5 separate regions of the Homo sapiens genome follow, and all the other regions are linked to region 4. The links come from fine-mapping of genetic effects on gene expression. A gene starts in region 4. Each other region holds a variant in brackets. All regions are shown on one strand. Distances are from middle to middle.

What was found. PIP is the estimated chance that this variant, and not a neighbour inherited with it, causes the effect.
Region 1: its variant is fine-mapped to the expression of LINC01232 in whole blood (TOPMed, PIP 0.99).
Region 2: its variant is fine-mapped to the expression of LINC01232 in caudate (GTEx, PIP above 0.99). The same link has a PIP of 0.9 or more in cerebral cortex, hippocampus, hypothalamus, nucleus accumbens, prefrontal cortex and putamen.
Region 3: its variant is fine-mapped to the expression of LINC01232 in whole blood (TOPMed, PIP 0.93).
Region 5: its variant is fine-mapped to the expression of LINC01232 in whole blood (TOPMed, PIP above 0.99).

The regions. Positions count from the first base shown.
Region 1 is chr13:99,465,601-99,472,058 of GRCh38, forward strand. No RefSeq gene overlaps it. Among named protein-coding and RNA genes, the nearest start is that of LINC01232, 30 kb to the right of the region's middle. The variant A/C (reference allele first, on the strand shown) is at 3,225.
Region 2 is chr13:99,543,906-99,550,363 of GRCh38, forward strand. It overlaps TM9SF2 (transmembrane 9 superfamily member 2), which reads left to right. Exons shown (of 17, transcript NM_004800.3): 10 at 1-90; 11 at 3,080-3,199; 12 at 5,260-5,317. Among named protein-coding and RNA genes, the nearest start is that of LINC01039, 30 kb to the right of the region's middle. RefSeq lists enhancers at 2,373-2,522, 4,470-4,519. The variant C/T (reference allele first, on the strand shown) is at 3,065.
Region 3 is chr13:99,565,381-99,571,602 of GRCh38, forward strand. No RefSeq gene overlaps it. Among named protein-coding and RNA genes, the nearest start is that of LINC01039, 8.6 kb to the right of the region's middle. RefSeq lists an enhancer at 1,463-1,962. The variant T/G (reference allele first, on the strand shown) is at 2,783.
Region 4 is chr13:99,496,559-99,503,016 of GRCh38, forward strand. It overlaps LINC01232 (long intergenic non-protein coding RNA 1232), which reads right to left and starts at 2,748. Exons shown (of 5, transcript NR_110731.1): 1 at 2,128-2,748; 2 at 691-778. TM9SF2 (transmembrane 9 superfamily member 2) reads left to right here and starts at 4,914. Exons shown (of 17, transcript NM_004800.3): 1 at 4,914-5,219. The coding sequence starts at 5,049. It overlaps LINC00449 (long intergenic non-protein coding RNA 449), which reads right to left and starts at 4,505. Exons shown (of 2, transcript NR_133664.1): 1 at 3,837-4,505; 2 at 3,165-3,382. RefSeq lists enhancers at 1-30, 2,002-2,211, 2,222-2,341, 4,620-4,799, 4,706-5,294.
Region 5 is chr13:99,473,493-99,479,950 of GRCh38, forward strand. No RefSeq gene overlaps it. Among named protein-coding and RNA genes, the nearest start is that of LINC01232, 23 kb to the right of the region's middle. The variant G/C (reference allele first, on the strand shown) is at 3,231.

The DNA.
Region 1 (6,458 bases), 31 kb before region 4:
GGGAGAGGCCACTCTGGAACCCCAGTGGGAAAAGCCCAGTGCCCACCTGGCTCTCTAAGCTGTGTTTACATGCCACCATCTGGTGCCCTCTGTAATTACTACAGCTGCTTATTAGAGCAGCCTCCACAGTGTAGAATACAGCATACAAAATATTTTGAATGTCACCTTGCCTTTCTTTTGCTTTTTGCATCAACTACAACAGAATTAAGGCAAAATCAACTAAGCGTTTTCTAAAATCTCCCCAGAAATTAAATGTTTTTCTTTTAAAAAAAATTTTAAATTGTTTTATATGTTGTTCAAGCTAGTCTTTTTTTAAAAAAACTTTTATTTTAGGTTCAAGGGTCCATGTGCAAGTTTGTTATATAGGTAAATTCCATGTCATGGGGTTTTGGTGTACAGATTATTTTGTCACTCAAGTAATAAATAAGCCTAGTACCCAATAGGTAGGGTTTTGGGGTTTGTGTGTGTTTGTTGGTTTTTTTTTTTGGTTTTTTGTTTGTTTGTTTGTTTGTTTGTTTGAGATGGAATCTTGCTCTGTTGCCCAGGCTGGAGTGCAGTGGCGCATTCTCGGCTCACTGAAAACTCCACCTCCCAGGTTCAAGCGATTCTCCTACCTCAACCTCCCAAATAGCTGGGATTACAGGCATGCGCCACCATGCCCAGCTAATTTTTGTATTTTTAGTAGAGACAGGGTTTCATCATGTTGGCCAAGCTGGTCTTGAACTCCTGACCTCAGGTGATCTGCCTGCCTCTGCCTCCCAAAGTGCTGCGATTACAGGCGTGAGCCACTGCGCCTGGCCCTCAATAGGTAGTTTTTTGATCCTCACCCTCCCCCAACCCTCCACCCTCAAGTAGGCCCGAGTGTCTGTCTTTCCCTTCTTTGTGTCCGTATCTACTCACTCTTTAGCTCCCCCTTATAAGTGAGAACATATGGCATTTGGTTTTCTGCTCCTATGTTAGTTCGCATAGGATGATAGCCTCCAGCTCCGTCTGTGCTTCTGCAAAGGACATGATCTCATTCTTTTTCATGTCTGTGTAGTATTCCATGGTGTACAGGCACCACATTTTCTTTATCCAGTCTACTGCTGATGGGAACAGGCTAGTCTTGAACACAGGCTGTAGCTATCTTCCCTCCTCAGCCTCCCAAAGTGCTGGGATTACAGGCGTGAGCCACCACACCTGGCCTTTTTCATTTTTAGCTATTGTTTTAGAGACTTTGTTTGTACATATCCATAATTATTACACAGTTGTAATCACGGAAAAGTTTATTTTTTAAATCTTGCTTCTTTCATGGAACATTATGACATAAGTATTTTCTCAAATTGTTACAGATTTCAAAATTATTATTTTAATAATTTATCAGATCCCACTTGGAAGGGATCTCATAAATCAGAGATCTGATCCCATACATTTCCCCAGCAGGTATTAGCTAGCCAAAGTTCTCCTGATGGGCCAAATTCATAGTCCTGAAGAAGAAATCCCTGTAGAACGTCACAAGCAGCCATAATTACAATGTTGCCAAGACACCTGGTTCTTTGCTTCTACATTGTTTGTTTTACTGCCCTTTTCTTGGGGAAGCTCAATGCCTGCGTTACTTTGAAGCTTTTGGTAGAGGTACTAAGCCTTCAACTAAAGCAAGGCAACTAGAACAAGCTGTTAGTTTTGAAAACACAGCCTGTCCACTAGGTTCCAGAATGAGGCCACTAATTTCTCAGAAACATCACTTCATGATCTCAAGGAGACTAATTTGTTGATTTATGAGAACATTTTTAAAAATCGGGTCACCCTTTCCCATGCCCTAAATCAATTGTCACTACACTTTGCCATGTCTTTTTTCAAGTCAGGAAAGTAATAAAGAAAAATAAGAGAACGCTTGAAAACACTTGATATTCAGCACACTTTCCTGTGGCTAAGGTTTTAGATTTTTTTTTTTTTTTTTGGTAGAACATAATATTATCCCATGCTTAGCTTGCTAAAGGCAATTTAGCAGCAGGATTTACCTAACAGAACAGTTTTGGCTTTATCTAATTTTAGGTAATTACCTCTCTTTTCAAAGCTCATTTCTCTTGTGCTTTTGCTGGTCTTGATGTGTCACACAACAGCATTCACCCCCAGGATCTACTGCTCTTAAAGCAATAGAAAGAACAGCTCAATTTCCTTTATCAAATATCAAGCATGAAATATAGGTCCACGTGTAAAATAAGGAATTTGATACCAGTCATAAAAATCTACCCACAAACAGGTGGAGAATAAAAAAAAAAAGCAAAATGCCTAGATCAATAAAATATTTCATAAACCCAAGCAAACACTAACATTACTGAGAGCTGGATATCTAATCTGAGTCATTACCCAAATAGGGCGACTCAAGCTATGTTCACCCAATCCTGGATATTTTCATTCGAAAGGCAAGGCTTTCCTGGAACAAGGTTTGCTAATGCCTTAATAAAGTTAGTCACTGCAAACAGAGGGAACTCAGCTAGCTCCACAGCAACCGCTCATATATATATATATGATAAACATGTTTTTCCTTATAGAGCTTTTTTCAATCTTTGAGCATGTTTTAAAATGCTTTATTTCAGGGTGGGTGAGGTGGCTCACGCCTGTAATCCCAGCACTTTGGGAGGCCGAGGTGGGCAGATCATGAGGTCAAGAGATCGAAACCATCCTGGTCAACATGGTGAAACCCCGTCTCTACTAAAAACACAAAAATTAGCTGGGCGTGGTGGCACACGCCTGTAGTCCCAGCTACTCAGGAGGCTGAGGCAGGACAATTGCTTGAACCCGGGAGGCAGAGGTTGCAGTGAGCTGAGATCGTGCCGCTGCACTCCAGCCTGGCGACAGAAGGAGACTCCATCTCCAATAAATAAATAAATAAACAAATAAATAAAAATGCTTTATCTCAAGTAAAGGGGTACATTTGCAAAGATTCCCTGCAGGGAAAAGGGGGAAAATATCACTTTTTTCAGGACTTCCTTTGTGCCAAGTATTGAGATGGTATCTTTGCAGTGCTGTCTCACAGAAATTGGCCAAAGCAAAAACAAACAAAAAAAGAAATTGGCCAAACCACACCTGAAAACTGTTCCCAGGGGCTCCACAGCACTCGGCCAAGATGCCCTTATAGTCTCTTGGCCAAGGAGAGAGCACATGACCTTAAATAAATCAATCATCCTCTCTCCCTGGAACTTGACTCTTGAGTAGAGTGTCAAAAAGACTGGAAGTGATGG[A/C]AAGTAATTTGTCCCCATGGCAATATCCTGAAGAGATTCTCCATTAGATCTATGAAGTAGCTCTGATTCCTCTAAGTATTTTCTTATCTTTTAACTCTTTGAATGACCCCCATCCTTCCAATGTATTTTTTCCTCCTTAAGTTAATTAGGGTCGGTTTCTGTTGCTTGCAATCGAAGATCCCTACTTGCTACCTCTATCACTCTGTCTCTGACATCTCCACTCCCTGGGGCTGCCCACCACATAATTCCAAAAGGCACCATTCACATTGCACTGCATGGAGTTGTGAATGGTCTCCTTGGCATTGTGCAAGTCATGGCTCTGTTGCAACAGTCTATTCTAGACACTCCTGCCAGGGGCTGTCTTTCTAAAGAACACATATCAATCTGTCATTTCTTTCCTTGAAAACCTTCAGTGGCGCTCCATTACAATAAATACTAAGATCCAAAAGGGCTTCAAGACACTGCATCTGCCTCCCGCTGGTTTTCTCAGCATCACCATTCACTACATGCCCCTCCCTTTCACACCATCTGGCTCCCAAGGCCAGGCCAATTAAACAAGCCATTCTACACCCTGCATTCTTCATCTTCTGTGCCTGATCCAGCACAGGAATCTCTTCCCTTTTTTCTCTCAGTACCTCATCGGTCAACATTCTAACCACCTTCAGAGACCTGCTAACATCCTACTCACTGACTTCCTAGACCTACCTGGTCAAATGACTATATTTCTTTATCTTGCAGTTGACCAGTTGTACTTTGTTTGTGCCCCTAATTATTGCACTTCCATTGCTTGTCTCTAATGAGAGTCTTGATCAAAAGTCTTTTCTTGGCTGAGTGTGGTGGCTCATATAAGCCTATAATCCCAGTGCTTTGGGGTGGCAAAGTGGGAGGATCCCTTGAAGCCAGGAGTTCAAGACCAGACTAGGCAACATAGTGAGAGCCCGCTGGGCACAGTGGCATGCACTTGTAGTCCCAGCTACTTGGGAGGCTGAACTGGGAGGATTGCTTGAGCCCAGGAGGTCAAGGCTACAATGAGCTGTGATGGTGTCACTTCACCCCAGCCCGGATAATAGAGCAAGATCCTGTCTCAAAAAAACCAGACCAAAACCTTCTTCTCCCCTATTTTATTGCAAACTCCCAGAGGACAACAACTACACTACCGGCCTGGCATCTCCCACAGCTCCCTAGCAGAGCACCTCACTCGGTTCATGTTTTCTATTCAACAGAATGGAAACCTTTACAATTCTCTTCAGGGAGCTGGAAAGAGTTAATATCGGGAATCCTAGGAAAGTAATTTTTATGAACTAGGCTTGTTCTCTTATGTCCCCCACCATATAATTCTCTCTCTCAAGCTCTGTGTCCTCAATGCCACTGGGGGCTCTGAGTCCCTATCCAGCTTTATGATGACAATGCAACTTACAAGAAACAGTCTTTACAGTCCTTTTTTTTTTTTTTTAAGACAGCATCTCACTCTGTCGCCCAGGCTGGAGTGTGCTTTGGGGCGATCTCAGCTCACTGCAACCTCTGCCTCCTGGGTTCAATCGATTCTCCTGCCTCAGCCTCCCATGTAGCTGGGATTACAGGCACGTGCTACCACGCCTGGCTAATTTTTTTGTATTTTTAGTAGAGACGGGGTTTCACCATGTTGGCCAGGCTGGTCTCAAACTCCTGACCTTAAGTGATCTGCCTGCCTTGGCCTCTCAAGTGCTGGGGTTACAGGCGTGAGCCACCGTGCCCGGCCAAGAAACAGTCTTGATCTTCAGGTAAATTTCCTTCACTTTATTACCAGAGAGAACTATGCAAAACACCTGAAAGAGTGAGTGAATTCAATGAATAAATGTGTTAAGGAAAGAAAATTTTCTCAAAAACAGATGCTTTTCTTCAAATGTCAAATGACCCATCATCATTCTTGGAACTTTATTTTCTGAGAGACACCGAGTATGCACGTCATTTTAATAATGTCTTGGACAGTAATATATTAAATTTTAGGGCTGGGCATGGTGGCTCATGCTTGTAATCCCAGCACTTTGGGAGGCCGATGTGGATGGATCACGAGGTCAGGAGTTCGAGAACAGCCTGACTAACAGGGTGAAACCTCGTCTCTACTAAAAATACAAAAAATTAGCCGGGCATGGTGGTGGTGCGCACCTGTAATCCCAGCTACTCAGGAGGCTGAGGCAGGAGAATTGCTTGAACCCAGGAGGCAGAGGTTGCAGTGAGCTGAGATAATGCCACTGCACTCCAGTCTGAGCGACACAGCAAGACTCCGTCTCAAGAAAAAAATATATATATATATATTAAATTTTAATAAAGGGGGAAAATACAATTATGTATACAAAAGAGGGTCATATGAAATATTATATTACTTTTTTTATTAAAATATGTCACATTGTACCCAGCATAAAAACAATAGTAGAATTTAAGGGCATCATCAGGGAGTTCAAATTTCTCAGTTGGAAATCTTGCACAGTTAGAAGTGGGTTATATTTAAGAACAATGGCATTTTATTTTAGTAACTTGTTCCCTTCCTGGTAGAACATTCATCCCTGTTACTTTTGTGAATTTCTATTGCTTTTAGCCTAATATAGTGACTCATTTTCCTGCACTGAATCACTGACTGTAATTTCCTAATAAAAGATCATTGCATTATCTGGCATGGCCTCTTTGAAACGTCCTCATTCTGGATTCTCCAAAAAAAGGAAAGAAGGAAGGAGAGAAGGAAGGAAGGAGAGTAGGAAGGAAGGAAAAAATACAGGAAAGAGGGAAGGAAGAGGGAGGAAGGAAGAGAAGGAAAGAGAAAGGAAGAAAGAAGGGAAGGAAGGTAGGAAGAAGAGAAGGAAGAAGGAGGAAGTGAAGGAAGGAGAATGGAAGGAAGGAAGGAGATGGAAGGAAGGAAGAAAGGAAGGAAGGGGAAATAAGAAAGGAAGGAAGGAAAGAAGGAAGGAAGGGAGGGAGGAGAGGGAAGGAAGGAAGGGAGGGAGGAGAGGGAAGGAAGGAAGGAAGGAAGGAAGGAAGGAAGGAAGGAAGGGAGGGAAGGAAGGAGGGAAAAGCCACTATCTTCCTTTGAGCTGGCACACAGCTTGAGTGATGCTCTTTCTCTAAGGCCTTATACAGCCCCTGAAGCTCCTTTATGTGAAATCTCCACCCTCCTATGGTGGGGATGGTTCTGAGTCTGTCCCCTACCGTGGCCAGCTGCTTGATTTCCTGTCTTCATAAACTGCCCTCCACAGGCGCCCT
Region 2 (6,458 bases), 47 kb after region 4:
ATATATTCCGTCCTCCAAGAAAAGGGATGCTGCTATCAGTCTTTCTAGGATCCGGGACACAGATTTTAATTATGACCTTTGTGACTCTATGTAAGTGTTAACTGAAAATTTTCAAGTAGAAAATACTTTCTAAATACAGTAATTGCTTAAAAACCAGTTTTTCTGGCCGGGCATGGTGGCTCATGCCTGTAATCCTAGCACTTTGGGAGGCCAAGGCGGGTGGATGACAAGGTCAGGAGTTTGAGACCAGACTGGCCAATATAGTGAAACCCCGTCTTTCTACTAAAAATACAAAAACTGGGCATGGTGGCAGGTGCCTGTAATCCCAGCTACTTGTGGGGCTGAGGCAGTAGCTTGAACCTGGGAGGCGGAGGTTGTAGTGAACTGAGATTGCGCCACTGCACTCCAGCCTGGGTGACAGTGCAAGACTCCATCTCAAAAAAAAAAACAAAAAACACCACAGTTTTTCTAAGTGGGTAGGTAAGCCAGATTATTTCTGAGCATCCTTTAGGTTCTCAAAATCTAAGTGACTTGGGGCAGGTTTAGTTGCACCCAAAGACTGACTCTTGGTTTCTCCCTTCAGCTCTTCCTAGACCAAGCCTTTGTCAGGGAGGCACTGGGCTGGAGATGAACAGGTCCTTAAGACCATCAGCATCTGAGTCTAAACAGCCCAGAACTGGGACCATTTAGGGTCTCTTTTACCCAGGCATCGTGGGCAGGCACAGTCTGGTTAGGGTTCCAGGATATTCTTGGCTTCCACGGAGGGAGGAGGGTGGGAAAAGAAGGGATGGGGCAGGAAGCACTGTGTAGATCCTTCTCATCTGGGGAGGATTTGGGAAGCAGGATCTCTCTCCTCTAGGGAAAGCGAGTGTGTAGGAAAGACCTTCCTTCCTCCATAAAAAGATTCTCTTCTTTGAGCTACCTCAGCGACTTCAGAAATTGTATTTAAATTTTTGCCAACTAGGACAATTTTTTTTTTTAAATAAATGTTCCTTAGAGGTATTGATAGCCACAGGGATTGTTCTGAAACTACCTCTGGGTATATGTTAATTCCACTGTCTTCCAGTTTCCTTAATTGGAAGATAAAAAAGGTTTATGAATAGAATTTTCTAAATTTTACCTTTATTTAATGTATTTTACTTTATTGATGCCTGCTACTGATAAATAGCAACAAATGAATATACTGGGAGAATTCAGAAACTAACCTTTAATAATTTTTTAGTAAACATTTATTTTTTATGTTTGATTACATATTAAATACATAATACCACAGTTATTTTTGTTAGTAAAGTTGTTCCAAATTTTTATGATAAAATTAATTATATAAATGCTTTGCAAAGAGCAGTATCATTTTCAAATGTCTGGCACTGAATAAGTTTGGGAACCAAACTCACACCTTCAGGTTCAGTTTGAAGACTGACTAGGATATCTTTTTTTTTTAATCTACTAACAACTTAAGGAGATACAATTTTGATAGGTAGAGCTAGAATTTGTAACTATATCATACTAAAGAGAAGTTAAGTCATACTAAAGAGAATAGGTCAGGAAAAGGTGTCATAAAAAAGGTTTGGACAGAGGGTGGTAGGGTGAAGGCACTGGGTGACAGAGAGCCAAACTAGACTTAGAGCAGAATGAATGTTTGAAGATAAACTTCTGCTTTCTTTCTTTCTTTTTTTTTTTGAGACGGAGCCTCGCTCTGTCACCAGGCTGGAGTTCAGTGGCGTGATCTTGGCTTACTGAAACCTCCACCTCCTAGGTCCAAGTGATTCTTCTGCCTCAGCCTCCTGAGTAGCTGGGATTACAGGCGCCTGCCACCACGCCTGGCTGATTTTTGTATTTTTGGTAGAGACACGGTTTCACCATGTTGTCCAGGATGGTCTCAATCTCTCAACCTCGTGATCCGCCCGCCTCGGCCTCCCAAAGTGCTGGGGTTACAGGCGTGAGCTACCACACCCAGCCAACTCCTGCTTTCAAATCTTATTAGGAGCTGTCTTCTGCGATGCTCTGGTTTTTATTGCGGTCAGCTAGAAAAGTGAACTTTTAAGGAAGGAAAGTTTCAGAGAGTCTAGGATAGAATACGATGGGAATAATTTTCCTTAAGTCCTCAAATAGGAACTTTCTGCCGAAGGGCAGTCCATTTTTCAGGTCGAGGAGGAGAAAGGGGTTGCATTTTAGCTGAAATCTTGTACATCTTCTAAAGCTACCCTGATGTGTTTCCTGCTCATCATGACTCTGGTGCTTGTCAGAGGTGTGTGCGCGTGCTTGCTCACATACGTGCTTGGTCATGCACGTTTTAGGGGAAACAATAGGGGGGGAAACAATGGGGATTTTCTTGCTGAGCCTCCTGAAACTCAGTTCTCAGCAGTATCCTACTCACCTTGGGATTCTGAGCACCTTATAACTTCTGAGCCCCAGCTTAAAGCTGGGAATTTCTATGAATATAATATAGCATTTTAATTCTCATTAGTAGGAAGGCTTACATAGGGAAGAGCAAACAAAGCTAACCACGTGAATAAGGTAGGGCCAGGGTTTCCCCGTATTGCTGACAAGGTCCTTCCGTAATTTGTGAAAAGCTAATGGCCGTATGAAATCTTTCTCCCTCATTTTGTTCTTTCATTAGATTATATATGTCTCTTCTGTTTGAATGTTGTAAGGTTTTGGGTTTTTTTTTTTTTACCCCCAGAGGACCCCCATATTTTTTAATGAAAGAACAGTGGGAATATTTTGTAGTGGAAACATTTTCACTTATGTCAATTTTAAAGGCTGTACTTGAATCTCAGAAGAGTCAAATGCACTCTTGAGCATCCAGTCAGCCTCCCCTGATCACAGGAAGGATGTGATCTCTCATTCTGGACTCTGAGAAGAAACTTCCAAAGTGAAGTTTGCCTCATGTATGATCAGATTGGTGCAGTACAGTAAATATTACTAAGATTGTGTAGAGCTGCATGGTAGGAGAGCACATGGTTTTGCGTGAAGTTGTATTTTTTTCTTGTTTGAAAAATGAGAGGGTTTCTCTATCATTTCACAGCAAAGGAAACAGAGTAATAACATGTACAGCCTTTCA[C/T]GATTTGTGTTTTAGTTTTCGCTTGCCTGGGATTTTTGTCACCTGCCAACCGAGGAGCGCTGATGACGTGTGCTGTGGTCCTGTGGGTGCTGCTGGGCACCCCTGCAGGCTATGTTGCTGCCAGATTCTATAAGTGTAAGTCAAAGCCACTGTGACTGGCGTCTGATCAGGAAGGGACTCTGCTGCGGCTGTGGATCTGACCTGGGTATCAGATGGTGATGCTTTGTAAATAGTGTGCCTCATAGGGGTCTGTTCTTAGTTAAAAGGAGCCTGCTTGGTGATTCCTTTTGTGTCATGAGTTACTATCCCAAAATTTATTTGTTCGAAAATGTTTAGTGAAACAAGCAAATTGTGCCACTTATCCACTATCCCCTCCCTCTTTTTTTCTTTAAGCTTTGGCTAACAGGTTGGGCTGAACAGCTTAGATTTGCTGTGTTCATAGAAGCACATATAGACTAATAAAGGAGAAAAGTATACAAATGAGTATCACTGATTTTTTTCACTAAAACAACTAGTACATCTAGGTGTACCTTTTCTTACATATGAGAAGTCATACTTACATTGTATCAATTTAATATTTATAAAAATACACTGTTTCAAGTAAACAAAGATCTCATTATTTTGGAGACCTGGAAAGTTACTTTTGTAATATCATTAGTCACAATCTCTTGTGTTCTTGCATTCTAGAAGTAAAATAAAGTTCAGTGAAACAAAAGGCTCACGGCCACAGAGTAAGGCTGAGATGGGACTGGATGGCTTAGAAAGCAGCTGGCAGGGTCAGCAGGGACCAGAGCTGGCCTCCTCGGGAATGCCACAGTCTCGTCTGGGATATACAGTGATTCCCCACGGTCTAGCAATGTGAAAAAGTTTTGAGGTGAAGCACAGTAGAGTTACGTGGACAACCTTAATGTGGGGTTGGGTAGTCTCAGCCCCCAGTAAAAGATTAACTTAGACCTTGTCAGACACAGTTCTCTCTTGAGTATGTGAAGCCCTGTATGTATGTGTGTTTTAAGTGTGTTTTAATTTCTGTGAATTTTGTCAAGTTCTTTCTTCCCCTTTACTAAAGGAGGTAGGATTAGGGCCATCATACGGATTTTAATGCATACAAAATACAGTCAGCCCTTTGCCTGCCACACCAGCCTTACTTCATGCCACACTCCCCCTTTCTCACCATTTCAGCCACACAGGCTTTCTGTCGGTTCCTCGGACAGGCTGCCTGCTTTCCCACACCCTGCTCCCATCTGCACTCCACTCACTAATGCCTCCCCATCCTTCAGGTCTCCCAGCTGCAGATCCTGTATTACTTGAATTTTGACTGAAATTATAGTAAACCCAGAATTAATCATTTCATAACAGTCTGTTTATCAGAAACATTGTGAGTTCAAATCATGATACATATATATGATCTTATGTGTATATGTAATTTTATTATTTTCTTTTAGGGCAAGTGGCACTTAAACTTGCCTATCAACTATGTTAAAACTTTTTTAAAAATCACAGCTGTTCTGAGATCTCAGCCAGTTTCATTTCTGACTTAAACTGGGAGCAGACGTGTACTTTCATTTTTCACTCTAGCTACTTCAGTATTTGAATTCTTTAAACTGGAAAAAAAAGCAAGTTGGAGAGGGGCAAAGGAGAGTAAAACATATATTAGCAAACATGGTCTGTCAAATGGTCATAACCCTTCTACTCTTCTTAGTTGCCTCATCTGACACACGCACCTCCTAGGAACCACAGTTCCTCCTAGAAACCACAGTGCTAGAGGAAGAGTTGGCCTACTGTGGAAGTGTAAATGTGTTGCACATCAGGCTTGACGGTTCCCAGTTTTATAACAAATTCTGAAACTGACTGCAAGATAAGTGAGAATCCCGTGTGCCCTTCCTGTGCCTAGGCCCATTGATTGATACTGGCTCAGGATTTAAGGATTCTTTTGGTTGTGAGGGGAAAAGAAGAACTGATCTTGATGACTTGCCTCTGATTCTCTAGAGCAGGACTTACCTAGGGAATCCCATCCTGTATGTCTCAGATTTGGATTATTTAATAAAGGAATATCATATTATATTTGCTAGTACCATTTTCTAGGAATGAGTACTCATTGCTGTCTGACAGTTTGGCAAATATCAGACTTGTAATATGGATATTTGGTTTGCTTTAAAGAAAATCTGTATTTATACAACTTTTGTTTTCTTCTATAGCCTTTGGAGGTGAGAAGTGGAAAACAAATGTTTTATTAACATCATTTCTTTGTCCTGGGTAAGTGAATTTTTCAAGAATTACTTTCTTAACATAGTTACATGTTAGTCCCCAAATTTTCAGTCGTTGAGTCTTTAATCCTCCGTGTCTCTAAATCATGTACCTAAGAAAGTAAATTTAATTTTTGAAAAGGGGTAAAATAAATATTTTATAAACGTTTGCCAAATGATTACCACATGTCTTATCTGGGGAAAGTACCTTTAGACATGAGAAATGTTTTAATTCCTTCTCTTCAAAGTCTTTCTGTTTCTTGGTTTTTAGTGGTCAGTCTGACATGTTGTTCTGTAGGCTGCATTTAAAGCTTTTGAGCCAGGCACAGGAAGGAATCCTGAAGATAGTTCAGGCAAGCATATGTTTTCCCATTTTTATCCAAAGCATTGCCATTTTTTAGAGTTTATTCCATTAAGTAAAGTAATATACACCAAAAATAAAAAATAAGCAGCCACCACAAATCCAAAACAAAACAAAAATCCTTCACTCTCTGGAACTGCTTCTCCTCTCGATTATCTGATGCGGTTCTGGTCCTAGAAGCAAAACCCACTTCCTCCCAAACCTGCACATTTCTGGTGGGCAAGAACTGACACGTGAACAGGCTACAGCAATAAAGAAAGCCAAGGATGATGAAGTCTAGAAACCAGAACTGTTCCATTTGCAGGCTAGAAATGCAAGCGTGATGGCAGCAGCATTTTAATACACATTTGGGATAAATATTCTCTCTATCACCTCCACCGAAGATTCACATTCTTCTCAGTTATCGGTTCTATTCAAATTTCTATGCTTTTCTCAAGCCATGTCCTTTGTTTTCTTTCCCTCTGTCAACTCACGAAGGTGTCCGTCCTTACCAAGACTGTGATTTCCTGCAGAATCTCCGAATCTTGCTTTTCAGGCACCTCTCCCTCTAGTCTCACACATCTTCCATTGCTCCCTTCTCACATGTTCTGCTTATGTGGTTCTTTTATTCCTCCAAATAGGCTCATGTCTCCCCTAAAAAGGGATCATAAACATCTTCCCTTCTTATTTCCATCTCATTTCTTTTCTATTCCCAACAAAATGCCTTGAAAAAAATAGTCTCTACTCCTTTCTTCTCATTTTCTCAGTAAACATTTGCAGTGTAAAGCCACGTCATTCGTATTTTTCTCCA
Region 3 (6,222 bases), 69 kb after region 4:
ACAGTGGAGAGGCAGTTGGGAAAATGAAATTGGAGTGATAAAGGAAAAGACTTAGGAGGGAGGGAGGGTGGAAAGCCGAGGAAGGAGACAGTGACAAGGAAGGCCTGCCAAGTGAGGAGGGCGGTGGAGAAAAGACCCCTCTCCAGGGCTTGGATCCCGCCGTCCTGAGGGGTGCGCTGCTGCGGCTTTCCCAGAAAGTTCTCCAGGAAAGCGTCCCTCAGCATGGCAGGCGGTTAGAAGCAGGGGTCCGTCTCCTTAGCTTGAGTGTGGCCCGGGACAGAAACAGTTGCGTTGCGCATGTTGTGAGACCCCAGTGACCAGGAACCCCGGGGAGAAGTCTCCTCCATGAGTCATGATAGCCGCAGGCAGCTGCGAAGGAGGGGGACGTGTAGCCAAGACCGGGAAGCTAGGTAACTGCAGTGTTTTCCTGCTGGAGAAATGGCCTTTTGCCATTCCCATGCCTTCTATCTGCCCAGGTCATTTCTAGAGACCCAGCCGTGCCGCAGGGTCGTCCTGCTCGCCGGCTAAGGGCGGCATTCTGTCTGCATTTGCCTCCTTGCCCCGCACATCAAGAAGGCCGCCCAAGCTTTCGGGCAGCGCCGTAGCCCCTTGGTGTCTCCCACAGTTTCTCCAACTGTACCTTCACCTCGAACCTAGTTACAGCCTCACCCCGCCTTCTTCCTGTCTGTTCGAGAGTCTTTCCTCTTTATTTTCCCTTCTGTGTTTAAACCCTCCCTCTCCATGCTTTCCATTTTAAAACACGTCCAACTTTCTGCTAGTTGTTGTTTTTTTTTTTTTTTTTCATTTTTAGTGAAAACAACCCGTCTGACCGATTTCTCCCTCTTCTCCTTGCCTCTCCCACCTGGCTTTGCCATCGGCTTCTTGTTTTCCGAGGATTCTGCTGGTAACCTTGTTGCCGAGCTCCTCAGCGCCCCCACCACCTGGTCCAGCCCTAATTTTACCAGCTCTTTACTGACACGACACTCAGTCTCTCTTGGAAACCTTGTCCTGAAAGCCGTGTTCCTCATAGTCTGGGTCTGAACCTTCCTCATAGAATCGCAAGAAGATTGTCACAAACATGTGCTTGCCCTGCACGTGTTCTGGAGAAGTGCGTTAAAACAGGAGACGCTGCTTACCCACTTCTCTTCCCCTCAATTCCGCCTCTGTCAGTCTCCTCTGGGGGCTCCACTTCTGCCCCCAGCGGGAGTTGCTGCCCTATTCCATCTTTCCCTCTTTGACCTACTTCTCACTTGGTGTTCTCTGTCCAGTTTCACTCTCGTGTTTAGAGTCAGCGCCTCCATCTCCACTCACAGCACCTGCTTGCTGCACAGCCTGCGTGGTCCTCGGGAACACTAAGCTCATGGTGTACAAAAGTGAGCGCACCTGCCCTCCGTCCCCAGCTGCCGCTCCCCCAGAGGCCCCGTCTCCGGTGGGGCCGTCAGCTGCTTCATCCCCTGAGCGGAGCTTCACAGGTCCCCTGGGTGCCCCTTTCAGTCGGTCACCGAGTATCCTCCAAGTCTTCAGATCCATGGCTTCCTGCCCACCCCCTCCACCCATGGCGCCTGCGGTGACGTCCTCCTGCACCGCTGCAGCGACGCTGGCTGGTTCCCTGCTCCAGGCATGTTCCTCCGCAGGGGAACCTGCTAGAGCTGCCACAAACCACACCCCTGCGCTGTCCATCTCCCTCCGTGACCCAAGCCATCCATGCCAAACCACCTGCTCATATGATCTATCCAGGAAATTAGAAAAAGCCCTCTTGGCCGGGCACGGTGGCTCACGCCTGTAGTCCCACCACTTTGGGAGGCCGAAGCGGGTGGATCACCTGAGGTCGAGAGTTCGAGACCAGCCTGGCCAACATGGTGAAACCCTGTCTCTACTAAAAATACGAAAACTAGTTGGCCTTGGTGGCAGGTGCCTGTAATCCCGGCTACTCGGGAGGCTGAGGCAGGAGAATCACTTGAACCCAGAAAGCAGAGGTTGCAGTGAGCCAAGATCAGACCATTGCACTCCAGCCTGGGTGACAAGAGCAAAACTCCATCTCAAAAAAACAAAAAGAAAAAGCCCTCCTATAGGTGTGACGAAAGCATAAAAATCGTAACCTTAAAACTTCTTAAGACACATAGAAGTGATTAAGGGCTTCCTTAAGCAAACTATTTCAGACATTGGTCATATAAATTTGTTTTAATACACAAATTCTATTGCACATTGGAATTTGTAACAGATTTTGGTGACAAGCGAAGAAAACCTAAAAGTCTTTCAAATGCAGCTGCTTCAAAGTTCTGGACCAAGTATGAGTCTCATGTTGCCAAAAGCCTTGTTTTAGACCTGATAAAAACATCAAGACAAAGCATTTTAATATAGATCTGTTTTAGGGGTGTGTGTGTCTGTGTTTAGAAACAGGGTCTCACTCTTGCCCAGGCTGGAGTGCAGTGGTGCAATCACAGCTCACTGTAACCTCGACCTCCTGGGCTCAAAGCAGTCCTCCTGCCTCAGCCTTTCAAGTAGATGGGACTGCAGGTGCAGGCCACCACTTCTGGCTCGTTTTATTTTAATATATGTATTAGTTTGCAAGGGCTGCCATAATAAAGCACCACAGAATGGGTGCCTTAGACAACAGAAATGTATTTTCTTATGTTCTGGATGCTAGAAGTCCAAGCACAAGGTGTCCACATGTCTGGTTTTTCCTGAGGCCTCGCTCCTGGGCTTGCAGACAGCCACCTTCTCCCTGTCCTTGTGTCTTCAAATGGTCTTTTCTCCATGCATGCACATCCCTGGTGTCTCT[T/G]TGTGTGTCCAAATTTCCTCCTATGAGGACACCAGTCAGACTGATAGAGCCCACCTGTAATACATATAACCTCATTTAATCTGAGTGACCTCTTTAAAGGCCCTATCTTCAAACACAGTCACCTTCAGAAGTACTGGGAGTTAGGGCTTCAAATATGAATTTTAGGAGGAAACAATTTGGCCCATAATAATGCACTTCCTCTAAAGATGCTGTATCAAGTGAGAACAACAGGATTCTTTTTTTTACTAGAATCCTTTCGGCAGTAAAGTCAAAACCATCCACTGAACCAAGCACCACAGGGAATTCACTCTTGGATCACTGTTATGTCAGTGACCCCCGCCAGAAGGAACTCTATTGCGGGATCTGGCCAGCATCCTGCAATGCAACGGGGCTCTTTCCTTGTTCCTAGGCGGATCGGCAAGTCGAGAAATAATAGACACACACACAAGATAGTGAAAGCTGGGTCCTGGGGGGTCACTGCCTTCTGGTCCTGCGATGCCGCCAATGCACTGGATTTACCAGCATTTATTGTTAAGTTTAGTGAGGGTGGGAGTAGGTTAGTGAGGGATTTAGAGTCATTTGATTATGAAGTGAGATGGTCACATGGGGATGAAGTAATTCTTTAACATAACATCTGTATGCAGAAGTACAGTATACAGAGATAAGAATTTACAATATAGTGTGTGTGTCAGTAATTTTTAACAGAGCCTTAAAACAGAAAACACAGTCTTTCCATAACCTATGATTAGCAAGATATTAATCAGCAGTAACAGTTGCAGCAAAAGCTGGTTACAAACAATCCATAGAAACAGGCCATGAAGCTAGACAGCCAGTTAGACCAGAAATTCTCAGAAGGGAGTATGCCTTAACCCTAAAGAGGCCTAGAAGGCAAGATGAGGGCGTTTATAGCCCTGTCTTATCCATATGAACAGGCACCCCCCATGCGTCCGTTTATAGGCTCTCCACAAGGGTCACGTTCCATTCCCAGAGCTATGAACATCTGCTTTTCTGGGATAGGAATCTTGGTGATGTGAAACCTCCCTGACTGCACGTCCGTTCATAGGCTCTCTGCAGGGGGAAGCACATCACATGCTGTTGGCTCATTCTGGCAGTCCAACCTGGCATTGTCTTTACACAATCCTGCGTGCAACTTTGTATTTACAATAATCAGGAGCATTTCATCTTTTATTCCATAGCAATAGTTTCAGGGGGTCTTCCTACAGAACTCAGTGTCTAGGGTCTGGGGTGGCACTCCTCTGGCCAGGGCTCCCACACCTGACAGACAAAGCCTGGAGATTAACAAGGCTACAAGGGTATTGGCGCCATGACAAGGCCTCTGCAAGCAAATGGAGAATTATACCCCATAGAGGATAAAGGGTTTTTTCCTGGGCTTGGTTTGTGTTCTGTAATCAGATCATTGTTTTATTTGAGAAGTCTTGCTTTTGATATAACCAAAACTGCTCAGGAAAAAAAAAAAAAAAAAAAGCAGGGTTGGTGGGGTGGATGCAATGGCTCATGCCTGTAATCCTAGCACTTTGGGAGGCTGAGGTAGGAGGATTGATTGCTTGAGTCCAAGAGTTCGAGACCATCCTGGGCAACAAAATGAGACCCCCATCTCTACAAAAAAAAAAAAAAAAAATTGGCATGGTTGCACGTGCCTGTGGTCCCAGCTACACAGGAGTCTGAGACAGGAGGATCACTTGAACCCAGGAAGTTAAGGCTGCAGTGAGCCATGATTGTACCACTGTACTCCAACCTGGGCAACAGAGTGAGACCCTGCCTCCAAAAAAAAAAAAAAAAAAGCTCAGCTGTTGGGAAAGGTTTTTTAAACCTTTTAAAACCCTCAGAAAGAAAGGTCTCTCCCTATGAATAGCAGGACATTCTGGGGCTTCATTAATATGTAAATATATGTCATTAAGAAAATGTTTTTTCTGGCTGGGCACAGTGGCTCATGCCTGTAATCCTAGCACTTTGGGAGGCTGAGCTGGGTGGATCACGAGGTCAGGAGTTCAAGACCAGCCTGGCCAGTACGGTGAAACCCCATCTCTATTAAAAAGTACAAAAATTAGCTGGGTATGGTGGTGCATGCCTGTAGTCCCAGCTACTCAGGAGGCTGAGACAGGAGAATCGCTTGAACCCAGGAGGCAGAGGTTGCAGTGAGCTGAGATCGCGCCACTGCACTCCAGCCTGAGTAACGATACGAGACTCCAAGACTCCGTCTCAAAAAAAAAAAAGTTTTTTCATATTTGTATTTTGTGTTCTATAGCCCAAGTAGATGGTGACCATAATTTCTCTGCCTACAAGGTTCTATATGTAGAAAATCATGCTTTTCTTTCTCAGATATTTTGATGGAACCAAACCTGTTTCCTATGACTGATTTGTTCTCTCCTTTACTATGTAATTTGAAGTCTAAACACTAAAAATCACTGTTTCTTCACATTCTCTTGCTTTTGGAATTCCACTGGAATTTTTTTTTTTTTTTTTTTGAGATGGAGTCTCGATCTGTCGCCTGGGCTGGAGTGCAGTGGTGCGATCTCGGCTCACTGCGAGCTCCGCCTCCTGGGTTCACGCCATTCTCCTGCCTCAGCCTCCCAAGTAGCTGGGACTACAGGCGAGCGCCACCATGCCTAAATAATTTTTGTATTTTTAGTAGAGATGAGGTTTCACCATGTTAGCCAGGATGGTCCTGATCTCCTGACCTCGTGATCCACCCACCTCAGCCTCCCAAAGTGCTGGGATTACAGGCGTGAGCCACCGCACCCGGCCTCCACTGGATTTCTTCACCTCACTCTCTTGAACTTCATATACACATGCTCAAATTTGATTCTTTTTTCCCTTTTATTTTTTGACCTAATGATTATTTGACATTCTCATTAATAATGAATTCTTTGGCTGGGCACGGTGGCTTACACCCGTAATTCCAGCACTTTGGGAGGTTGAGGCGAGTGGATCACCTGAGGTCAGGAATTTGAGACCAGCCTGGCCCACATGGTGAAACCCTGTCTCTATTAAAAATACAAAAACTAGCCGGGCATGTTGGTGGGTTCCTGTAATCCCGGCTACTTGGAAGGCTGAGGAAAGAGAATCTCTTGAACCCAGGAGGCAGAGGTTGCAATGAGCCAGGATCGCGCCACTGCACTCCAGCCTGGATGACAGAGCGAAACTCCATCTCAAAAAATAAATAAATAAATAATATAATTAATTCCTTTATTTAGTGAAGAAGAAAGCATGGCTCTAAAAAGTCCTGTTAATTCCTTCGGATATTTTTAGCCAAAAGTGGTCTAGGCCACGTGAGTGGTGTTGACCATGATAAATAAATAGCACTATAATAGGTCACAGGTCATTAATTTCTCTGAAAAGAGTTAAATATGAGATATAAGTTGGAAATGATATATTTAAGGATTAGAGTCCACTTTTTAAAAGGTTTTTACTGATAGCTT
Region 4 (6,458 bases):
AGCAAGGAAAGCAGAGATTTATTGAAAGTGAAAGTACACTTCACAGTGTGGGAGCAGGCTGAGCAGCAGCTCAAGGGCCCCAGATACAGAATCTTCTCGGGTCCAAATACCCTCTAGATGTTTCCCATTGGCCACTTACTTGGTGCTCACCCCATGTAAATGAAGTGGTGGCCTGCAATCAGAGGCTAAAGTGAAGTTACAAAGTTGCACTTCTATTCAAACGAAGCCTTGGCCCACAATCAGTCTGATTGGTTGGGGACAGCAACCAATCAGAGGCTGAAGTGAAGTTACAAAGTTACACTCTATGCAAACATCTGATTAGTTGCAGAAAGCAACCAATCAGAGGCACTTTCAATTTTCCAGCTGCGGCACAGAAAAGGTGGGGGTTTGCAAAGGGAGTGGCCTCTGGGCCTTTTGTTACTTAGGAGTGGAAAGTTAGGGTTTTCCTTTCCAAATGGCTCTAGGAAGTCAGTGTGAAACGGCCTTAGGTTCCCTGCTCGCAGACCCTGTTCTCCTGCCTAACTACTAGAGTACAGTGTGCACTTCCTAAAAACGGAAGCACTTTTGCTAATAATTTTAACTTGACACAAAAGTAGGGTGATCAGATAAAATACCCTTATGTCCCATGTAATAGTTGGAATGTACTTATACTAAAAAATTATTCATTGATCATCTGAAATTAAAATTTACCTGGGTATACTGTACTTTTATTTGCTATATCCGACAATCTTATACAGAAGTCGTCATGGGAAACTCAGAAAAGGCTGTCCAAATTATTCTGGCAGAGAGGAGTGGAAGAAACAAATGCCATTTAGGTTGGGTGCAGTGGCTCACACCTGTAATCCCAGCACTTTGGGAAGGCAAGGTGGATCACGGGGTCAGGAGATGGAGACCACCCTGGCCAATATGGTGAAACCCCATCTCTACTAAAAATACAAAAATTAGCTGGGCGGGGTGGTGCGTGCCTGTAACCCCAGCTACTGGAGAGGCTGAGGCAGGAGAATTGCTTGAACCAGGGAGTCAGAGGTTGCAGTGAGCCAAGATGGCGCCACTGCACTCCAGCTTGGTGACAGAGTGAGATTCTGTTTCAAAAACAAAAGAAAAAGAAAAAAAGACACAAATGCTGTTAAAAAAAATTTAAAAGACAAAAACAAAAAACTGTGGGGCCCGGCGTGGTGGCTCACGCGTGTAATCTCGGCACTGGGGGAGACCAAGGCAGGCGGATCACCTGAGTTCAGGAGTTCGAGAACAGCCTAGCCTGGCCAACATGGTGAAACCCCATCTCTACTAAACATACAAAAATTAGCTGGGCGTGGTGGCTGGCACCTGTAATCCCAGTTACTTGGGAGGCTGAGGCACAAGAATCGCTTGAACCTGGAAGGCGGAGGTTGCAGTGAGCTGAGATCCTGCCACTGCACTCCAGCCTAGGCAACAGCGAGACTCTGTTGCATTTAAAAAAAAATTGTGGTAAAATATACATAATAGAAAACTTACCGTCTAACCATTTTTAAGTGTACACTTCTGTGACATTAGCATATTTGCATTGTTGTGCAGTCATCACCATTCATCCCAACTTTTTCACCAACCCATACTGAAACCGTATGCCATTAAACAGTAAATCCCCATCCCTCCTTCTGCAGACTCTCTCTACAACCACTGCTCTACTTTCTGTCTCTATGAATATGACAGCACCATAGTATTGGCGGTAAATCAGAGTTGGCAAATGCAATCTGAAGCAGAGGAGAGGAGAGAGTCATATCCCTCAAGTTTTACAGTCCCATTAAAAGTATTAGTACTTTGAGAAAAGGACCGTCACGATCATGGGGAGAATGAAGGAAAAACTCCATTTCTTTCCAGTTTGCAACTGGAATTGTCACTTTCGTCTTTCGGCACGACAGCGCCCAGGCCACAAAAGCCCACAGGGCAGGGCCTCCATTTTGTGGCCTGCGTGGAGGGCGGGGCGGTCTCTCTCCGCCACGCCCCAGCACCGGGTAGACACCGCAGCCACGTAACCAAGGAACCCCGAATGAGGCGTTGGCCAGGTGAGGCCGGATCCGGAAGTAGGGGGACCACTTCGCCCCGCGTACGAGCCCCGCCCCCGGCCCCTCCCACCAGACCCAGGCCGACCTAGATGACGTGTCCGAGTAGGAGTTGGCGAGGTGCGGCCGGGCGGCCGGCCCTGCGCATGCGTGATACTTGCACCGGTCGAGATGGTAGCATGAGTCTGGAGGTCATTTTCTTTGAGAAAGGCTCCGCTTCTCCGGGTTTTTGCTGATGCCGATCCCGGGGGATTGAGGAAACATTGAGCTCTGGAGTGGAAAAGGTTGCAGACTTTTAGACTCCCAAGTCGTTGTAGTCTCAATCTCTAGTGGCTGCGTTACTGCAGGAAGTCACGGAAGCCTCTCCCCTTTCTTAGGCGCATCCTTGGCTGTAAAAGGAGGTTAAAAGCCCCTGGAAAACCTCAGGTTTATTTCAGCTCTGAAAGTCCGGTTCCAAATTTAGATCCAGCACTCTTGTGGCCTGGCCAGTGATGGTCGTGGAGTGCTTTCCCCGCGCCTGCGGTCTCTAGGCTCTGTGGATGTAGAGGTGTGGGATGTAGGAGCAGGCCCTTACCCGTGGAATTCACATATAAATGGGGGAATGAGACAGCAAACAAACAAACGTGATCCTTCCTGATAGTGGTAAATGTGGGATGCCGAGGTTTAAGCAGACGAGTGGTATTAAGGGATTTCAAGGTTTTATAAAATTGATTTTGCCAAGAGTGGAAGCTGAGAGGCTACTGCAGTAAGAAGTCCAGGGGAACTAAGAATTTGGCTTGGACCAGAGTGGTAGCTGTGGGCATGGAAAGTACTGAAAGGATTTAGCCCATAGTTTAGCAGCCCAACCAACGGGACCTGCTGAAGGACTGGAGGTAGGTAGTGAGGAAATGAGAAATTTAGGTTCTTCTCCAGGGTTGGGGCCTGAAAAGAGATGGGCAGCGATGCCGTTTCCTGGAAAACTGGGAGAGGAAATGTTTGGGATGAGGGCAGTGAGATATAATGAAGGTCAAGTTTTTTTTTTGTTTTTTTTTTTTTTTTTTTGAGACGGAGTCGTGCTCAGTCGCCCAGGCTGGAGTGCAGTGGCGCGATCTCGGCTTACCGCAAGCTCCGCCTCCCGGGTTCACGCCATTCTCCTGCCTCAGCCTCCCAAGTAGCTGGGACTACAGGAGCCCGCCACCACGCTCGGCTAATTTTTTTGTATTTTTAGTAGAGACGGGGTTTCACCGTGTTAGCCAGGATGGTCTCGATCTTCTGACCTCGTGATCCGCCCATCTCGGCCTCCCAAAGTGCTGGGATTACAGGCGTGAGCCACCGCGCCGGCCGAAGGTCAAGTTTCAGTGGTGCTAGGAAAAGAAGATAGTGAGCAAAAATGTTAATTTTTGTTTCCTCCTCTTAATATTTGGAGAAAACGTCTGCTTCCTTTTGTTATATTGGAAATCTCCATGACTTCCAAATACAGAATATTTTACAATTTTTCCCTATCCCAAAGTTCAGCGAATATGTTGATTTATTTGAGGGAGAGGACATGAAAGGGAAGCCACCTAGGCACAATTTTCTGCTCAGGCCCTACCAGATTAGTTTTTGTTATCAAAAAAAAAAAAAAAAGTGCCATTCCTTGGGCCAAGCTATGTGCTCAGCACTTTCCCTCCATTTTTGATTTAATCTTCACAACAACCTTAAGATGAACGTTCTTTTCTACTTCCCAGTTCTCTTGATTAACTTGGCTACCCCACTATATGGATCAATTTGCAGGGTCCTAGGTCCCTTTGAAAATCTGATGAAAGTTATAAACCTTACCTGGGAAAAAAGTACAAACACCCGCAAGAACTTGAAATAGGAGTTCACTGGCCCTCAACTTTCTGAGCTTACTATTTCACAAACCTGCCTATTCTTGAATTCTGAGCTGGAGGTCATGATTCTCTCTTATGTACTTTAAGATGATGCACTCTTCCGAAGTTTTTGATTGAACTCTAGTGGCTAACTGAATTGACTTTTTCAGATCACTAAAAAGCTTCTCCTTGAAAAATACTCAGAAGATGCAACACACACACACACACACGTGTGTGCACTTACACACGCGGACACCGTCTCACATCATCAGTGGGAAAAGTGATAGAATCTTGCTAAAGGCTGATCATACCATATTAATCCGATTCGCCAGAACTACTTTCTTCACTGAGCTCTCAGGTATGCTCGGGTCTTCCTTTAAAGAAAATAAATGTCAACGCTACACTCTATCCTACTCCCATTTTCCTCCTCACCCCATTTCCACTCTCCCTTAAAGAGATGTGTGCACACAATCACTGCCCAATGCAAGAATGCACCACTGCATCCAATGCTTGGAAATTGTCCGTGAAGATGCCTTTGAGTAGCTGTCTATTTGAGGATTTGTGGCTAATTCCTCCCCATTTGTTTCCTTAGCCTGCTCCCAACCAGGTGTCTCCAGAACTTTTTCTCTCCGCCACCAACTCCGCCTCCAGACAGACCGCAGGTGCTTTCTGTCATAGGGACTGGCGTGCCGCGGACAGTGTGACAAAGAAACTGTATGATGGATATGAGAACTTCGTAAGACCCAGCAGCAAACGGGGAGCGGCTGGCGAGCGCTCCACAGCCCCCAAGCGTGGGAGCTCTAGATCGGAATTTGTAATTTGGAATTGGAACGTGAGCGCCGGAACAGCTCTCCCAGCAACCACCTCTCCCAGCAACCACCTCAGCTGGCGCGCGGAAAACCCGGAAAGTGGATTTCGCCCCCGCTCCCTCCCGGAAACTCCTCCTGGTGCCTGCGACCGTTCTCACTGAGCATGTGCAGACGGCGGTGCGCATGCTCTGTTGCGGTCCGCTTCGGTTTCTGTTGCGGGACCCGGGGTGTCTCCTAGCGCAACCGGAACTAGCCTTCTGGGGGCCGGCTTCCTTTATCTCTGGCGGCCTTGTAGTCGTCTCCGAGACTCCCCACCCCTCCTTCCCTCTTGACCCCCTAGGTTTGATTGCCCTTTCCCCGAAACAACTATCATGAGCGCGAGGCTGCCGGTGTTGTCTCCACCTCGGTGGCCGCGGCTGTTGCTGCTGTCGCTGCTCCTGCTGGGGGCGGTTCCTGGCCCGCGCCGGAGCGGCGCTTTCTACCTGCCCGGCCTGGCGCCCGTCAACTTCTGCGACGAAGAAAAAAAGAGCGACGAGTGCAAGGTGGGTGAGGCCTGACGAGCCCTCTGATGCACTGTTGGAAGGGGAAGTCGTCCCTATCCGGGGGAGCTGATCCTCGGGTGGGAGCGAGGGAAGGGGGCGTAGCAGCGGGTGGGGTTGAGTTTCCCCAGAAGCTTTTGGGGTCTGCTGGGCTGTGGGTGGGGGGCTCTGAAACAGCCCTTGCAAGGGTAGTTTCTGGAGGACGCAGTGGGCCTCAGACTCGCCTCCCGTCTTGCGGGCCAAGTGGCACGAGCAGCTGTATTCAGTTTTCCTGGAACAGGGACCGTGTGGAGCGCCCTTGGAGTTGGGCTTCACGCCTCAGAGCTTTGGAGTTGGATGTATGCAGGTCCACGCGTGAGTGTTCGCTCACAGCCCTGTAACATGTACGCTGAGGAAGCGGGTGACCGACTCCCTACATGTGAGCAACACTCAGCCTAGTTAACAGTTTCCATTAGCTTTTAACTTCATTGCTTCCTGTTTAATTGCATTTTCCTGGAACCTTCTAGTTGGTTAGGAGAGCTTGTTCTTTCTAGGACTTTGATATCTCGCTTCACAATTAGAAGTTGGTTCCTTATTTGTGGAGTATAACACCCAGAGCCACACAAAGTGCATTAATAAAGAGTTGCTGTAATGGTTGAGGCACTTGATTTCTGAGTTTTAAGTGTAAAAGATTTTAATACACAAAAAAAGATACGAGGTCTCACTATTTTCTCTGAGATGGTTTTAAACACTTAAAAGGGGCAAATGGTGGGAGAAACTGGTGTTTTCCTAGGGCAAGTCTTGAAAACTTTGATCTCTTACAACATTCACACTCAAGGTTTTCAGTTTAATTGCTAGTAAAAGAGGCGTAAATAAAGTAACCTGCTTTTAGGTTATATGGTGTAGGGCTTTACAGTATACATACACAATTATTTCGTTAAGTTTATTTAAAACTTAACATTTGGGGGATGAGGATCTCTTTGAAACCTTTAATGATTTCAACAATTCAAATAATCGTTCAACAAACGTTTACAATCTATAAATAGGCTTATTTATTAAGTTTGATTTTTTTAAGCTGGTGTTTATTACAGTTAGCTTTACTATAGCTGTGAATTTTGAGGTTATTTTAGGGCATTAGATAAGCTTTAAATTTTTCATAACATTTTGCAGTTTCTTTTTAGGTTGTCAGCTATCTTGAATGACATGTTTATACATCTGTGCAAAACCTTGTATCTGAAAAAATATCTAAGGATATTTAAGGTT
Region 5 (6,458 bases), 23 kb before region 4:
TGCCTGTGGCCTCACTTACTGCTGGTAGTCATGGCAGGAATGGATGCGGGAGGCTGGGATCCCCCAGCGTGGCTGGGAGTGTTGACTGCCATCTTCCCTTAGGGGTGTGCATCTGAGGTCCATGCTGCTCCTCAGAATCTCAGAATTCTGTCGTGGGTGCTGCAAAAACTGACTAAGGAGGCCAAATGCACTTGGTTTACATTCTTCTCTCTAGATCTTTGGATAAAACAATTTAAAAATTTCGCCCAGTGTAACTTTGTTTATTTTTGTGAAGCAAAATCAAATAAGCCAAGTGCCATTGGAACTCCTGGCAGCTTCCTAATACTTAATACTTGATGAAAGTCCTGCAAGACAATCCAGACTTGATGAGGACGGGAAGCCGATATTTAGTCGATGATGGCATCATCACGTCGATGTTTTTTTCATTTCCTAAGGAATGCTGGCTGCACACCAAGAAATGAAAGTTGTTGGTTAATGGATGCTAATGGGAAACCTAATGAGGCAGTGGAGGCCAGCACTTTTCACGCTATGGCCCATGGCAAAGCAGAAGATTGATGGAGAGATGAGAGCACTGCCAGTTCTTCTATAAGTAAAAGAAACATCTCATCCAAAAGATGTTTCTCCAGTAATGGGGTGAAGCTCCTTTACCCACAGAAGGCTGAACCAGTATGAAACAAGGCCAGGCATCACTCAAGTTAGTCCAATAGCAAAATGCATTTACATACGTAAATAAATATATATATTACCTTTCTATACGACGACATCTCTCTTTTTTTTTTTTTGAGATGGAGTTTTGCTCTTGTTGCCTAGGCTGGAGTGCAATGGTGCGATCTTGGCTCATCGCAACCTCTGCCTCCTGGGTTCAAGCGATTCTCCTGCCTCAGCCTCCCAAGTAGCTGGGATTACAGGCATGCGCCACCATGCCCAGCTAATTTTGTATTTTTAGTAGAGATGGGGTTTCTCCATGTTTGTCAGGCTGGTATTGAACTCCCAACCTTAGGTGATCCGCCTGCCTTGGCCTCCCAAAGTGCTGGGATTGCAGGCATGGGCCACCACGCCCGGCCGATGACATCTCTTTACAAAGAAAACGTGTGTTCATTATTTCTAAAAATAGAAATATTACATAGTCAAAAGGGGGGAATCACCTTTATTCAACTATCACCTTTATTCAACTGCAAAGAAATAACCCACTGTTGGTATTTTCACGTGTGTCTTTCCATTCTTTTTTGTTTAAATATATATGTATATTTTAAAAAATCTTCCTGTGAATTTTAAGATATGTATAGATTTGTGTGGCCCCCACCAAAATCAGACTATCCAACAGTTCTATCACCCCCTCAAAATCCCCTCTTATATACCTCGATAGTCACACCTCCCTCCCTTGAATCTCTGCATCTACTGATCTGTTTTCAGTCACTGTGGTGTTAGGTTTTTGAAATGTCGTATAAATAGAGTCATAGAGAATGTAACCTCCTAAGACTCAGTGTGTATGACATTAATCCGTGGTGTTGTATGTATCAATAGTTCATTCCTTTTTATTGCTAAGTACTATTCCATTGTATGACTGTTCCCATGGTTTGTTTATTCATTTACTGGTTGAAAGGCATTTGTGTTGTTTCCAATTTTGGTGATTGTGAATAAAGCTGCTATAAGTAGTTACACACAAATTTTCGTGTGAGCATAAGCTTTCATTTCTCTAGGGTTTAAATACCTAGGAGTGGGATTAATGGGTCATATGGTAAGTGTATGTTTAACTTTGTAGGAAACTGTCAAACTTCCCGCCTAAGCAACAGAGCAAGACCCAGTCTGATATAGTTTGGATGTTGTCCCTATCCAAATCTCATGTTGAAATGTAATCCCCAGTGTTGGAGATGGGGCTTGGTGGGAGGTGATTGGATCATGGGTGCAGATTTCTCATGAATGGTTAAATATCATTCTCTTGGTACTGTCCTCGCGAGATGTGGTTGTTTAAAAGTGTGTAAAAGGAAAATATCTTGGGGCCCCAAAAATCACTAAGTTAAAAGGAAAAGTCAAGCTGGGAACTGCTTAGGGCAAACCTGTCTCCCGTTCTATTCAGTCACCCCTCTGCTCACTGAGATAAATGCATATCTGATTACCTTCTTTGGAGAGGCTAACCAGAAACCCAAAAGAATGGAACCATTTGTCTCTTATCTACCTATGACCTGGACGCCCCCTCCCCACTTTGAGTTGTCCCGTCTTTCTGGACTGAACCAACGTTCACCTTACATACGTTGATTGATGTCTCATGTCTCCCTAAAATGTATAAAAGCATACTGTGCTCTGAGCATTTTGGCCACATGTCATCAGGACCTCCTGAGGCTGTGTCACAAGTGTGTGTCCTCAATGTTGGCAAAATAAACTTTCTAATTTAACTGAGACCTGTCTCAAATTTTCTGGGTTCAAGTTTTGGTAACCATGAAGGGATTCTGAGCGGAGGTGCCCCTGACCTTTGACAAATCTATTGGTGCTTGGAACCAGCATGAGCTAATTTTATGGCTCAAGCCAATAGGACAATTTGCTGAGGTCTGGGAGAACCCCCTCCAGAGAATCCCTGATCTCCCAAAATTTGGTCAAGATCTAAAGTTTATTTTGCTGTACAACTCCCTTTTTCTTTTGAGTTTTACTTGCTTCCAACAAGGAAGGCAAGTTTTTCCTGCTTCCATGACAACGGAAGGCAGGTAACTCCTTTATGGAGTTTGAGCTCACTTCCAACAAGAAGGATGAGGGTTTTTTCCTGCTTTTAGGGTGATAGAGAGCAGTCTTCAGCCTGAGACCCATCCCTAGGTAAGTAACTGAATTGGGGTTTGTCTTGGCTAAAGTTAAGATTAACAACCAGCTTGTCTTAATTTCTCCTCACCACTAGAGCGCTCAATAGTTGTATAAGTTGTGCGATCATTTGTTTTGCTTAACTGCGTTTTTTGTTGTTGTCGTTTGTTTCTGTTCTTGTTGTTGTTTCAGTCTTTTTCCCACTGGGTTTGATCAACTCTATCCGGCTTGATCAAATCCAAAGGAAAGTTCCAAATTATGGGGAACAAGGCCTCTGAAGTGGCTAAATTCCACCCCGCCACCCCCCCCCCACACACACACAAAAGGTGGTATGGTGGGGGAGAAAAACGGCCGGAAAAGGAAACCAAAAAAAAAGAGGAAAGATTTTTCATTTTGACTACTAAGGGACTTTATTTACATAACAAGGCCACCTTTTTGCTAGC[G/C]AGGCCCAACCAAGAGAGCAATGGCTGTACTTCTGAAATAGCAGCAATTTGTCCTAGCTGAAATATGGTGATGAGATCTTAAAAGATTTTTTTTAAAGGAGCTCAATGATGAAAAGTCAGCTTAATTAAAAGCTAACATTCAAGAAGTGTGTGTGTATGTGTGCGTGTGTGTATGTATGCATGTGTGTGTGCATATGTGTATGTGTGCATGTGTGTGCATGTGTGTGTACGTGTGTGTATGTGTGTGTGCATGTGTGTGTATGTGTGCATGTGTGTGCATGTGTGCGTGTGTGTATGTGTGTGCATGTGTGCGTGTGTGCATGTGTGCGTGTGTGTATGTGTGCGTGTGTGTGTGTGTGCGTGTGTGTATGTGTGCGTGTGTGTATGTGTGCGTGTGTGTATGTGTGCGTGTGTGTATGTGTGTGCGTGTATGTGTGCGTGCGTGTGTGTATGTGTGCGTGTGTGTATGTGTGCGTGGGTGTATGTGTGCGTGTGTGTATGTGTGCGTGTGTGTATGTGTGCGTGCATGTGTGTATGTGTGCATGTGTGCGTGTGTGTGTATGTGTGCGTGTGTGTGTATGTGTGCGTGTGTGTGTACGTGTGCGTGTGTGTATGTGTGCATGTGGGTGTGTGTGTGCATGTGTGTGTATGTGTGCGTGTGTGTGTGCGTGTGTGTATGTGTGCGTGTGTGTGTATGTGTGCATGTGTGTGTGTTTGTATTTAAAAGGCCTTCATATTTTTGCTTTTGTTTTTCCCCTAGGATCTTGTCTTTTTTTTCAGCAAAAGTTTTTTTCTTCTCAGTTGACCGAATTCTGTTTTCTTCATTTACTTCTGCTGTGTCTTCTTTCTCTTGCACTCTCTGTAGCATGGGTAACCTAAAATAGTTTATAATAGCCTGGGGTTCCTTAAAGAAAACTGAGAAGGCGCCAGACTCCCTCTGAGGGAGAAACCTGTTTTTCCTTATGGAACCCCAAGAATGTAAACAGACAAGTTCATCTCAGCTCTTAAACGGCTTACTTTTGTATTGTGTTACCTGGTGTGTTTTTCAACTAAAATAGTTATTGCAACAGAGGTTACTCTCGGGTTTTTAAGGAAGAGTGTGGTTTAGACACTTAGAAATATGTTTGTTAAAAAAAAGTTTTTTTCTTTAAGTGCACTGTAAGAGCATCACATGGTCTAGCCTCATAATAATTCTCCCTTTTTGGAGACCGAGATTCAATTTCATACCTATCCCTACCAGATACTACAAAGCATCAAAATTTGGCATAGGGGTTACAAAACTATAAACCCAACCCAAAACAGAATGATCTTTGCTTGTGTAGTCTTTAATAAATAAGACATTGATATTGGTTTAATAAAAATAGCTACATCTCAAATTTAGTAAGATTACCATAACTTCTAATCTTATGGCTTTAGGTGGTCTAGTCCACAGCCAGTAAGGTTTGTTATCATCTTTGTTTCAAGCTAAAATATAAACTAAGTTCCTCCCAAAGTTAGTTTGGCCTATGCCCAGGAATGAACAAGGACACCTTGGAGGTTAAAAGCAAAATGGAGTCAGTTAGGTCAAATCTTTTCACGTCTCAGTTACAATTTTGCAATGGCGGTTCCATAGCTTTAAATGATGACTATCACAGTTTTCATAAATAATCTAGGTAAACAATTAAAATGAAATAATTAGGTAAATGTAATAGGATAAATACTTGTAGACAAACTCATAATTTAGAATCTAAAGTTATATTAAACTAAATGATAAATATTTCATTATTTGGGTATTTTCCAATAAAAATATATTTATAGGAAAACATTATTTCTAAAAAAAAAAAAAAAAATCTGTCCTTTTAAAAAAGGTGAACTTAGCTGGGCACGGTGGGTCACGCCTGTAATCCCAGTACTTTGGGAGGCCGAGGCGGGTGGATCATGAGGTCAGGAGAGCGAGACCATCCTGGCTAACACGGTGAAACCCTGTCTCTACCAAAAATACAAAAAATTAGCCGAGCATGGTGGCAGGCACCTGTAGTCCCAGCTACTCGGGAGGCTGAGGCAGGAGAGTGGCATGAACCCAGGAGGCGGAGCTCACAGTGAGCTGAGATTACGCCACTGCACTCTAGCCTGGGGGACAGAGCGAGACTCCATCTCAAAAAAAAAAAAAAAATGGTGAACAGTGGCCGGGCGCAGTGGCTCATGCCTATAATCCCAGCACTTTGGGAGGCCGAGGTGGGCAGATCAGCTGAGGTCAGGAGTTCAAGACCTGCCTGGCCAACATGGCAAAACCTTGTCTCTACCAAAAATACAAAAAATTGGCTGGGCATGGTGGCGGGTGCCTGTAATCCCAGCTACTCGGGAGGCTGAGGCAGGAGAATCACTTGAACCTGGGAGGTGGAGGTTTCAGTGAGGAGAGATTGTGCCATTACACTCCAGCCTGGGTGACAAGAGCGAAACTCTGTCTCAAAAAAAAAAACATTTGAACAATTTTTTGTCTAATTCAAAGCTTATTTAAAGGTCATGTATAAAACAAGGTAAAAGGAACCAGGAAATAAGAGAGATGTAAAGAAAGTTATAAAAATAATGAGGGTTTTTTTTGGTAAGAAACTTAAAGAGAAATAATTTCATATGAGAAAGAATCTTGTATGATAAATTTAGTCCTAGGGTAAAATGACTGGTTGTTTAAGAAGGAGGGATGTTCAGGACAAACCAGAAAGTCCAAGCATATGATGAACCATCTGTGTAAGTCACAATAAGAGGATTTATTTTTTTAAAAACCAAAAACTTTTATATGGTCAAGTTGTCGCATTATTATTAAGTTTTGGTTTGCTTAGGAAAAAACTGAGATTTAAAATTTTTTTAAATTCAGGTTATTACATCCGTGTATCTCTCTGTATGCACTTTTAAAGTACTTGTGACATTGAGTTACAGGGCTTTGACTCCTGGGTCTAAAAAGGACATCAAGTACTGCTAAATTTTAAATGCTGACAGTAATTGAAGACCCATCTTCAGGTCCAGTAGAAGATGCCAATCAAAATAAACTGCATACAGGGCCAAAACTTAAAGCTATTCAACTCCTCAAGGCCCAGGGACTATTGCGGAAGAGGTGGACGAGTGAGATTGTATGGGCCAATTTTGAGAGATAAAATATGTTCAATTTCTCTATAAATTAATCATTAATGTTAAAGGCACACTGATGCAAGACCAGCATATGGGCCCCTGTGTCAGATTAACAAGGTTTTTATG